Linked DNA regions of Homo sapiens. The protein of the gene in region 1 purifies or fractionates together with the protein of each later gene. This does not show direct contact. Each region holds a gene or a part of one and is shown in the gene's direction. Other genes may lie near its edges. The genes, in order: TAOK2, PIP4K2B and ARB2A.

What was found.
Region 2: the proteins of TAOK2 (region 1) and PIP4K2B purify together in Homo sapiens (affinity purification with mass spectrometry; one large-scale study listed by BioGRID and IntAct). This does not show direct contact.
Region 3: the proteins of TAOK2 (region 1) and ARB2A purify together in Homo sapiens (affinity purification with mass spectrometry; one large-scale study listed by BioGRID and IntAct). This does not show direct contact.

The regions. Positions count from the first base shown.
Region 1 is NC_000016.10:29,986,372-29,989,034, forward strand, and holds the end of TAOK2 (serine/threonine-protein kinase TAO2), read left to right. Parts: coding exon 1-1,609; 3' UTR 1,610-1,987; downstream 1,988-2,663. UniProt on the Homo sapiens protein: Serine/threonine-protein kinase involved in different processes such as membrane blebbing and apoptotic bodies formation DNA damage response and MAPK14/p38 MAPK stress-activated MAPK cascade.
Region 2 is NC_000017.11:38,765,075-38,768,590, reverse strand, and holds the end of PIP4K2B (phosphatidylinositol 5-phosphate 4-kinase type-2 beta), read left to right. Parts: 3' UTR 1-2,900; downstream 2,901-3,516. UniProt on the Homo sapiens protein: Participates in the biosynthesis of phosphatidylinositol 4,5-bisphosphate. Preferentially utilizes GTP, rather than ATP, for PI(5)P phosphorylation and its activity reflects changes in direct proportion to the physiological GTP concentration.
Region 3 is NC_000005.10:94,108,744-94,113,007, reverse strand, and holds the start of ARB2A (cotranscriptional regulator ARB2A isoform 1 precursor), read left to right. Parts: upstream 1-1,344; 5' UTR 1,345-1,497; exon of another isoform or gene 1,498-1,820; intron 1,821-4,264. UniProt on the Homo sapiens protein: Plays a role in the regulation of alternative splicing, by interacting with AGO2 and CHD7. Seems to be required for stabilizing protein-protein interactions at the chromatin-spliceosome interface. May have hydrolase activity.

The DNA.
Region 1 (2,663 bases):
CACGCGGGCTGAGCTCACCCGCCTGCAGCACCAGACGGAGCTGGGCAACCAGCTGGAGTACAACAAGCGGCGTGAGCAAGAGTTGCGGCAGAAGCATGCGGCCCAGGTTCGCCAGCAGCCCAAGAGCCTCAAAGTACGTGCAGGCCAGCGCCCCCCGGGCCTTCCACTCCCCATTCCTGGGGCTCTGGGCCCACCCAACACAGGCACCCCTATAGAACAGCAGCCCTGCTCACCTGGCCAGGAGGCAGTCCTGGACCAAAGAATGCTTGGCGAGGAGGAGGAAGCAGTTGGAGAGAGAAGGATTCTGGGAAAGGAAGGGGCCACTTTGGAGCCCAAGCAGCAGAGGATTCTGGGGGAAGAATCAGGAGCCCCTAGTCCCAGTCCACAAAAACATGGGAGCCTGGTTGATGAGGAAGTTTGGGGTCTGCCTGAGGAGATAGAGGAGCTTAGGGTGCCCTCCCTTGTACCCCAGGAGAGGAGCATTGTTGGCCAGGAGGAGGCTGGGACATGGAGCTTGTGGGGGAAGGAGGATGAGAGTCTTCTGGATGAGGAGTTTGAGCTTGGCTGGGTCCAGGGCCCAGCACTGACTCCCGTCCCTGAGGAGGAGGAAGAAGAGGAAGAGGGGGCTCCGATTGGGACCCCTAGGGATCCTGGAGATGGTTGTCCTTCCCCCGACATCCCTCCTGAACCCCCTCCAACACACCTGAGGCCCTGCCCTGCCAGCCAGCTCCCTGGACTCCTGTCCCATGGCCTCCTGGCCGGCCTCTCCTTTGCAGTGGGGTCCTCCTCTGGCCTCCTGCCCCTCCTGCTGCTGCTGCTGCTTCCATTGCTGGCAGCCCAGGGTGGGGGTGGCCTGCAGGCAGCGCTGCTGGCCCTTGAGGTGGGGCTGGTGGGTCTGGGGGCCTCCTACCTGCTCCTTTGTACAGCCCTGCACCTGCCCTCCAGTCTTTTCCTACTCCTGGCCCAGGGTACCGCACTGGGGGCCGTCCTGGGCCTGAGCTGGCGCCGAGGCCTCATGGGTGTTCCCCTGGGCCTTGGAGCTGCCTGGCTCTTAGCTTGGCCAGGCCTAGCTCTACCTCTGGTGGCTATGGCAGCGGGGGGCAGATGGGTGCGGCAGCAGGGCCCCCGGGTGCGCCGGGGCATATCTCGACTCTGGTTGCGGGTTCTGCTGCGCCTGTCACCCATGGCCTTCCGGGCCCTGCAGGGCTGTGGGGCTGTGGGGGACCGGGGTCTGTTTGCACTGTACCCCAAAACCAACAAGGATGGCTTCCGCAGCCGCCTGCCCGTCCCTGGGCCCCGGCGGCGTAATCCCCGCACCACCCAACACCCATTAGCTCTGTTGGCAAGGGTCTGGGTCCTGTGCAAGGGCTGGAACTGGCGTCTGGCACGGGCCAGCCAGGGTTTAGCATCCCACTTGCCCCCGTGGGCCATCCACACACTGGCCAGCTGGGGCCTGCTTCGGGGTGAACGGCCCACCCGAATCCCCCGGCTACTACCACGCAGCCAGCGCCAGCTAGGGCCCCCTGCCTCCCGCCAGCCACTGCCAGGGACTCTAGCCGGGCGGAGGTCACGCACCCGCCAGTCCCGGGCCCTGCCCCCCTGGAGGTAGCTGACTCCAGCCCTTCCAGCCCAAATCTAGAGCATTGAGCACTTTATCTCCCACGACTCAGTGAAGTTTCTCCAGTCCCTAGTCCTCTCTTTTCACCCACCTTCCTCAGTTTGCTCACTTACCCCAGGCCCAGCCCTTCGGACCTCTAGACAGGCAGCCTCCTCAGCTGTGGAGTCCAGCAGTCACTCTGTGTTCTCCTGGCGCTCCTCCCCTAAGTTATTGCTGTTCGCCCGCTGTGTGTGCTCATCCTCACCCTCATTGACTCAGGCCTGGGGCCAGGGGTGGTGGAGGGTGGGAAGAGTCATGTTTTTTTTCTCCTCTTTGATTTTGTTTTTCTGTCTCCCTTCCAACCTGTCCCCTTCCCCCCACCAAAAAAAGAAAAAGACAAACACAAATAAAATATCTGAGCGGAACTGTGCCTTTGGCCCAGGCTGCCTCTGTCTGCTTTGTCCTGCCGCCTAGCCTCCCCGGTATGCCCCCAGGCTGACCCTCGGCCCGGCTCCATGACCTCTTCACCCCATCTCCGTTATCTCAGCCCCCTCACTCCTCCAGCCTCATGCTCTCTGCCTTCATAGCTTCATTGCACCATGACCACCACCGGCTCTGGGGTCTGGGCCCCTGTAGAACTTCACCGAACTTCTTGGTCCCACAGAGCGCCTGTTTGCGGGTTCCTTCCAGAGGTCTTAGTTTCCAGGCCCTTGGTCTCCTCATCCCTTGCCTTTTCTCCCAACCATGGCTGCAGGGGACCAAATTGCTCTCCTGCATCAGGCATTACCCTAGTGGGTTGGGGGACGGGGCTGCAGACCCTCCACAGTAGGGGGTGCTGAGCTGGGGGCAACCAGGCGGAGTATGAAGGCTGTGGCAGCAGGATTGAGTGTGGGCCTGGAGTGGGAGCTGAGTGTGTGAGGGGCCGGGCTGGAATGCGGATCTGGTCAGGGTGGTAGCTGCTGGCCGGTTGAACTTGTCAGGCCCTTTCTGGCCACCTCCTTTGCCCCTTTCTCCTCTGCGGCCCAAAATGGGGCAGCCCCTTCTTACCCATTTCTCAGCTCGGTGC
Region 2 (3,516 bases), on another chromosome or scaffold:
GGATGACCTTGTAGGAGATCTGTCTCCCTGTGCCTGGAGAGTTACAGCCAGCAAGGTGCCCCCATCTTAGAGTGTGGTGTCCAAACGTGAGGTGGCTTCCTAGTTACATGAGGATGTGATCCAGGAAATCCAGTTTGGAGGCTTGATGTGGGTTTTGACCTGGCCTCAGCCTTGGGGCTGTTTTTCCTTGTTGCCCCGCTCTAGACTTTTAGCAGATCTGCAGCCCACAGGCTTTTTTGGAAGGAGTGGCTTCCTGCAGGTGTTCCACCTGCCTTCGGAGCCTGCCACCCAGGCCCTCAGAACTGAGCCACAGGCTGCTCTGGCCAGGAGAGAAACAGCTCTGTTGTTCTGCATTGGGGGAGGTACATTCCTGCATCTTCTCACCCCCTCAACCAGGAACTGGGGATTTGGGATGAGATATGGTCAGACTTGTAGATAACCCCAAAGATGTGAAGATCGCTTGTGAAACCATTTTGAATGAATAGATTGGTTTCCTGTGGCTCCCTCCAAACCTGGCCAAGCCCAGCTTCCGAAGCAGGAACCAGCACTGTCTCTGTGCCTGACTCACAGCATATAGGTCAGGAAAGAATGGAGACGGCATTCTTGGACTTCACTGGGGCTGCTGGATTGGATGGGAAACCTTCTGGAAGAGGCAGATGGGGGTCAAACCACTGCCTTGGCCCCAGGAAGGGGCCATAGGTAGGTCTGAACAACTGCCGCAAGACCACTACATGACTTAGGGAACTTGAAACCAACTGGCTCATGGAGAAAACAAATTTGACTTGGGAAAGGGATTATGTAGGAATAATGTTTGGACTTGATTTCCCCACGTCATAATGAAGAATGGAAGTTTGGATCTGCTCCTCGTCAGGCGCAGCATCTCTGAAGCTTGGAAAGCTGTCTTCCAGCAGCCTCCGTGGCCTCGGGTTCCTACCGGCTTCTCTGCATTTGGTCTGCTGATCATGTTGCCATAATGTGTATGGAAAGTGTAACACATTCTTACTGGTTAAAGACGACTACCAGGTATCTAACTTGTTTAACATTGAGTTTGTGTGTGTGTGTGTATGTTTGTGTGTTTTGTATATTGTTTACATTTTGAGAGGTAGCATTCTGTTTCAAATGCTTTTTGTTTTTCTGACAGTATTGTTGACTGGGTCATAACATTTTGAGCTGTGGTTTGGTGGATTTTCAATTTTTTTTTTTAAAGGTCATTCGCTGTGCTATCTTCAAAACCTTGAGTTTGGCCCCCAATTTTTGGCATTCAAATGTTTAAAAGCTATTTATCTTGGTTTATACAAGTTTCCTTTCTCTTCTTTTTGTCATGGTATTCTATTTGGTCTGCAGTTTGAATGTAGAGAAAGTGGACTGATCCCCCAAGCGTTGTCTGCCCCCACTCTTTCCTCCTTGGGTCCCGCCATTCTTTTACTGGGCAGTCGAGGGCATTGGAGGGGAAGTGACTGCCCTCAGCCTCACTCCCTGGGGCCATGAAGAAAAGCTAAACAGTCTCATGGCATCTCAGAATAATGTTGGGTCTCCCAAGAAGAAAGGTGTAAGAATAACGACATGGCTGATTAGGCGAGGCCAGGATAGGGCTAAGGCCAGGATTCCTGGCTGGCATCCAGTCACCCCTTCTCCCATCCTTCCCCCTCTTCTTCCACAAGTCCGCAGCCGAGACACTGTAGTCTCCCAGCCACAGTGATGAGTGCCCTGGAGACTCCACTGACCTCTAGATGAAGGCCCCTGGCCCTGGTTCCTGTTAATTAACCTCTGGGTCTTTGAGTCCCCCAGCACAAACTTCTTTCCTGTACCCTGCGGCTTGGGGTCACAGGGCATGCCGGGAAGCCACAGCTGAGGGGCGCAGACTGAAGCAGTGCTCCACCTCTCCTTCTTTAGCTCAGGGGTTGCTGGTCTGTGGCAGGCGCCACGAGTGGCCCCTGTGGCTGTTCTCAGTGGCAGTCTCTTAAGTTCCCACCACAGGCAGCTCTTTATCCCCTCTCCCTACTTGACTCTTTCTCTTGCCTGTGCTTTTGGCCTCAAACAGGCCTGCTGGTAGCGCTCAGGGCGTGAGGCTACACTCCTGCCCTGCCTTTCCTGTCTTCATGGTCTGCCAGGGCATACCTTGGGGAGGTGGACCAAAGACCCAGGACTTTTTGCAGTAGCCAGTCCTACCCCCCAGTTGTCTTTTTACCAATTCAGGGTGGGAGAGAAAACTGCAGCACCCCAGCATGTGAGTTACTCAGGTGTTGGGGGCTAGAAGGGACAGTGCGTTTAAACAACACTCAGAGCTCTGGCCTTAAACCTGTGGCCCCCCAAGTCTAGGAGCCTCATCTCTTCCTGGCAGTCATGCGGGCAGGAGGTCCTGAAAGGGAAAACCCATTCAGACAACTGTTCCCCAATCTACCAGCCATCTGCAGGGGTCAGTGACCGTGGCCCTCTCCCTCCTCTAGAATGTGCCACTTATGAAGAGTGCCCCATGGGGAAAAGGAGACTCAGCTGTCCCTTGGCAGCTTGTGCCAGTATCCCAGGGCAGAAGTTTCCACAGGAGCCTCTTGCCCTTGCGCAGAGCCACTGTGAGAGGCGGTGGGAGCCAACACCCTTGGGGGAGGGGGCAGTACTGCTCGGCACATCCCAGCATCAGGTCAGATCATTGAAATTAAAAAATGTGAATTAAGTTCATATCCACCTTTTGGGGAAGCAGGACAAACCACCACCCCACCAAGTGTGTGACTTCTCCATATCCCACTGCAGTTTCCATTTTTTAAATGGGAATTTTCAATCCCCTGTGCTTGTCTAACGTCTGCTTTAAAAAGTTTGAGACCCTGTTACTGTTTGAAAATGCATGCATGTTACGATGAATCTCCAACCTGAGGAAAAAAATAAAACTCAAAAAGCTTTGTGTACATCTGTTATGTGTGAGTCCTTGGGAAATGAACCTTTTTTTTTTCTTCCCAGAATTAAAAAGTTTTGGTCCTAGCTTTAGAGGCAGCTTCGGCTAAATCAATGTATGGCTTGAGTTTGGAGAAAGAATATGGTCAATGACATCCCGCTTTCAGATGCAATTAATAAACAGTGGTTAAAAGCACAGCACCACTGGCTGGGTTTGGTGGCTCACGCCCAGTACTTGGGGAGGCCAAGGCAGGAGGATCACTTGAGCCCAGAAGTTCAGTACCGGTCTGGGTAACATAGTGAGACCCCGTCTCTACAAAACAAGAATTAGCTGGATGTGATGGCACATGTCTGTAGTCCCAGCTACTCAGGAGGCTGAGGCAGGAGGATCACTTGAGCTTGGGAGGTTGAGGCTGCAGTTAGCCATGATTGCACCACAGCACTCCAGCCCTAGCAACAATGAGACTCTTAAGGAAAAAACAAACAAAACACCACAGCACCAGAGCCAATCTGCCTGTTAGCTGTTACTACCATGCACATGGAAGAATGGACAACCCCCCCCCCGCCCCCCCGCCTCCAGCTGTGTAGAACGAACTCTGGCTAGGAGCCACTCACCTGACATAACTTTGA
Region 3 (4,264 bases), on another chromosome or scaffold:
CTGATGTTTTTCTCATGGTTAAACTGGGATTATACATTTTTGGGAGCCTTATCTTTTTAATATAATCTGTCACTGTTGCAAAAGTCCACCAAAATAAAAATGTTTCCCTCCTCTGTTCAACAATCCTTCAGCTTCCCCAATTGTCTGCAGCAGAAAATCAAATTACTCAGCATGACATAGAAAGCTTTTCAGAATCTGGCTGTTGCCTTCCTCTTCAGTATAAAGTGTCACTCTACAAACCATTTGAGTTCTTTCCGGAAATGAAGCCCTAACAGTCTTGCAATGCCCGAGATTCATTCAGGTACTCAGTTCTGGCTAACTCCAGTGGATTCTCTCACCTTTTACTGCTCCTTATCTCCCGCCACTTACTTACACCACTTTCTTCTTGTCCTATACACTTTTCTAGATTTCCCCAATCTATTATTTACCACTGTGATCATTCAGTCATTCAATAAGTATTTATTGTCTACTTTGTGGACAGGCACTGTTGTATGGTTGAGGATACATTAAAAAGACAAGATTATGTCACTACCATCAGTGAGTTTACATTTTAGGGGGCAGGGTACATTTGCAAAGTACAAACAGTGTGGAAGTGAAGTATACCTTAGAGAGTCTGAGATCTCCTCTCTGAAGAACATAACTGTTGGTTTACTTGTCAGCCACCAGACTTTCCTTCTCTTTAGCTGCCTCAGAGGAGAGGGTATCTAACTCAGCTTTGTTACCCCAGCGTCTAGTTTAGCCTAATTCATTAAATTAACAGTTTTGGACTAAATAAATGCTCTGAGAGTACTATCTAAAAATTAAAAATCAGTTGCTTCCATCCCTTTCCCCAGATTTATCCTTGAAATACCTTTCAAACCTGTTTCTGGAAAAAACATTAATATCCGTAAGATTCCCATTTGAGTCAAGTATGATAACGAGAAAACTTTTGTCATTAGGATGCTAATATTAACTTCCTATTTTACATGTCCTAATTCAAAGGTAAATTTAATCTTCCGAATCTAGACCTCCCGGTTTTTCTGGAGTTGAATGGACAGGGTAAAGTCTGACACACTCTGAGTAGCGGAGTGGGGAACTGGCTGTAAGGACATCCTTAGAATAGTTAAAATTCCGCTGGGAAAACGAGGCTTTAGAGTGGCCTCGTCCTCTACGGCTACCCAGGCAGCCTTCACAAGGAAGGGCGACCAGAGTCCGCCAGTGCATAAGAGAACTACACTTAATTCACGCGGGCCTCTTTCTCCAGTCCACCTAATACCACAGGAACCTACCCAGGGCCCGCGCCCCGCCCGTTTCCGGGTTGTCGCCGCCGCTGCCGTCAAGTGCGTAATGACGTATCAATCTCCTGAAGACCCCGGAAGTGCAACTCGAACTTGGTCGGGGCGCGGATCCCGAGAGGGAAAGTCATAACAACCGCACGAGGGAGTTCGACTGGCGAACTGGAAGGCCACGCCTCCTCCCGCCTGCCCCCTCAGCCCTGTGGCTGGGGGCAGAGCTCAGGTAGGACTGCCGTTTGCGGGGATGTGAGCTCCGGGGGCAGGCCCGGGTCGAAATCAGGAGGGGGCTGGCCTGGGTCGGTCTCAGGCGGTGGTCGCTGGCCCTGGGGACCGAGGCTGTCTGGAACCACGCTGCATTCCCTGCGGACACCTCTGACTTGTGTCTGGGCCTCCGCTGATGGGCAGGTCCCATGTTCCATTTCCACTCTCTAGGCGGGAGCGACGTGTGTGTTCCCTGGATGACTTTCCTTATGTCGGGGCGTACGGGATTCTGGGAGTCCCTGGAGACAGAGTAATGGGCCCTCCTCCGCTTTCTTGCGAGTGGAGGTATTGTGGTTGTTGTATTAATTTTTTTTTCTACAAAAAGTATTATTAACTGCCAGCGCTTTACCAGAAGTCATTCACTGCAGAGGGATTAAAGTGCAGTTATAAAATGCTCTCAAAACTTGTAACATGCATGGGCGCGGGTGGGACGTTTCTCTGGGATGCAGTATGAATTAAGTGTTGAATACTTTTGACTTTGAAATAAAGTAAGTATGTTTTGGAAGCAGTCTTCTCTTTCCCTCATCCAGGTGTTTAACATATTCTTATAGTGCTCCAGGGTCTATATCTGTTGGGCCAAGAAACTCGTTGTGTTTGGATATACTGTATTTAATGACATGCAATGTTGTTGCATTTGTCCATTTCTCCCAAATCCTCAAAAAAGCTGTAGAGGGAAAAATTCTCTGGTTTTTATCTACAAGTGCATTGTATATTTATCAAAATATCAGTGCGATTTTTTAATGTAGTACATGACATCGTTTGCATTAACGCATGCCATATACTGCATAACAAATATCTCATTGATAAGGTGTATTCTTTATCCTACAATGCGAGGGACGGTTACACTGTATACATTTAGCGAATGTAGAAACTGAGTAAGAGAGTATTTTTGGATCTGCTTCGTTAAGGCCTCAGTGACAGTGCTGGTACCAGGCTTCTTTCAGAATTTTCAACTAGGCCTTACTTCCACTTAACCAGTGAATCCTACGCTGAAAAGTTAAGGATGCTCTGGATGCTTTCAGGCTATGGCTGCTCCATATGGTAGAATAAATAGTACCAAGGCCAAGAGGGAAATATTATCTATGAAACCATGAGCATCCACTTGTTTATCCATTTAGCAAGTATTTACTGGCAACCTTCAGTGTGCCGGATAGTGTTCAGGTGATGGGAAGACAGCAGTAAACAAAATAGAAAGTCCTTTTGCTCCTGGAACTTACATTCTAGTGGATGGAGACGTATAATTAACAAGTAAATATATAACAAGTAGTGATTAAGAGGTATAGAGAAAGGCAGGGCGCGGTGGCTCACGCCTGTAATCCTAGCATTTTGGGAGGCCGAGGCGGACGGATTGCCTGATCCCTGGAGTTTGAGACCAGCCTGGGCAACACGGTGAACCCCGTCTCTACTAAAATACAAAAAAATTAGCTGGGTGTGGTGGCGTGCGCCTGTATTCCCAGCTACTCTGGAGGCTGAGGCAGGAGAATTGCTTGAACCGGGAAGGCGGAGGTTGCAGTGAGCCGACATCATGCCACTGCACTCCAGCCTGGGTGACAGATCGAGACTCCGTCTCCAGAAAAAAAAAAAAAAAAAAAAAGAGGTATAGAGAAAAATAAATTAAGGGGAGAGAGAATGATAGAGGATGCTATTTTAGATAGGGTGGTAAGCTCACCCTCTCTGATAAGGGAACACTTGAGTGGAGATCTGAATGAAATGAGGGAGTGAGCTCCGCAAGTATGGAGGAATGAGTTGGCCTAGTACAAAGGCACTGAGACAGGAGCGTGTTTGATATATTTGGAATAGCAAGGATGTAGGCATGGAGGTAGCAGTACTTAACAATCTCAAGAATGAATATTTATTCCTTGATTTGGTGGCATGAGGGATTTTATTTATTTACAGTTTATTTTTTTCAGCTTTCCCAGACAAACCTCTGAGGAGAATCTGGTGTCTGTAGATATGTAGAGATGTTTCTGTGCTCTTCATTGAGCTCTAACAAAAGTAAGCACTATTTACTCAGTTGTATACAACTTGTACTGTCTCTGTTTTTAGAGTCAGATTGGGTTTGCACAGTAGTCATTGGTAACTAAGTATGGAGTATGTCCCTGTACTATGCCAACTTTATTTTTCACTCAGAAGTTTTTCATCATCCCCAACTGAAACTTCATACCTATTAAACACTCACACCTCGTTTTCTGTTACCTTCAGCCCCTGACAACTGCCAATTTACTTTCTGCCTCTATGAATTTGACTACTCTAGGTACCTCATATAAGTGGAATCATGCACTATTTGACCTTTTGTGACTGGCTTATTTCACTTAGTATAATGTCTCCAACGTTCGTCCATGTTGTAGCGTGTGTCAGAATGTTCTTTTTAAGGTGAAATACAATTATCCATTGTGTGCATATGCTGTTAATACATTTTGTTTATCCATTCATTCATCCATGGATGCTTGGGTTGTTTCCATCCTTTGGTTATTGTGAATAATGCTGCTATGAACATGAGAGTGCAAATATCTGTTCAACTCTCTGCTTTCATTTCTTTTCGATATCTCTCCAGAAGGGAAATTGCTAGATCACATGGAAATTTTATATGTATATATATCTATATGTATACTTTTTTTCGAGGAATTGACACACTCTTTTCCACAGCAGCCACCTCATTTTACATTCCCACCAGCAATGCAAAGGAGTCCAATTTCTCCACATCCTCACCAACATTTTGCCACATCCTC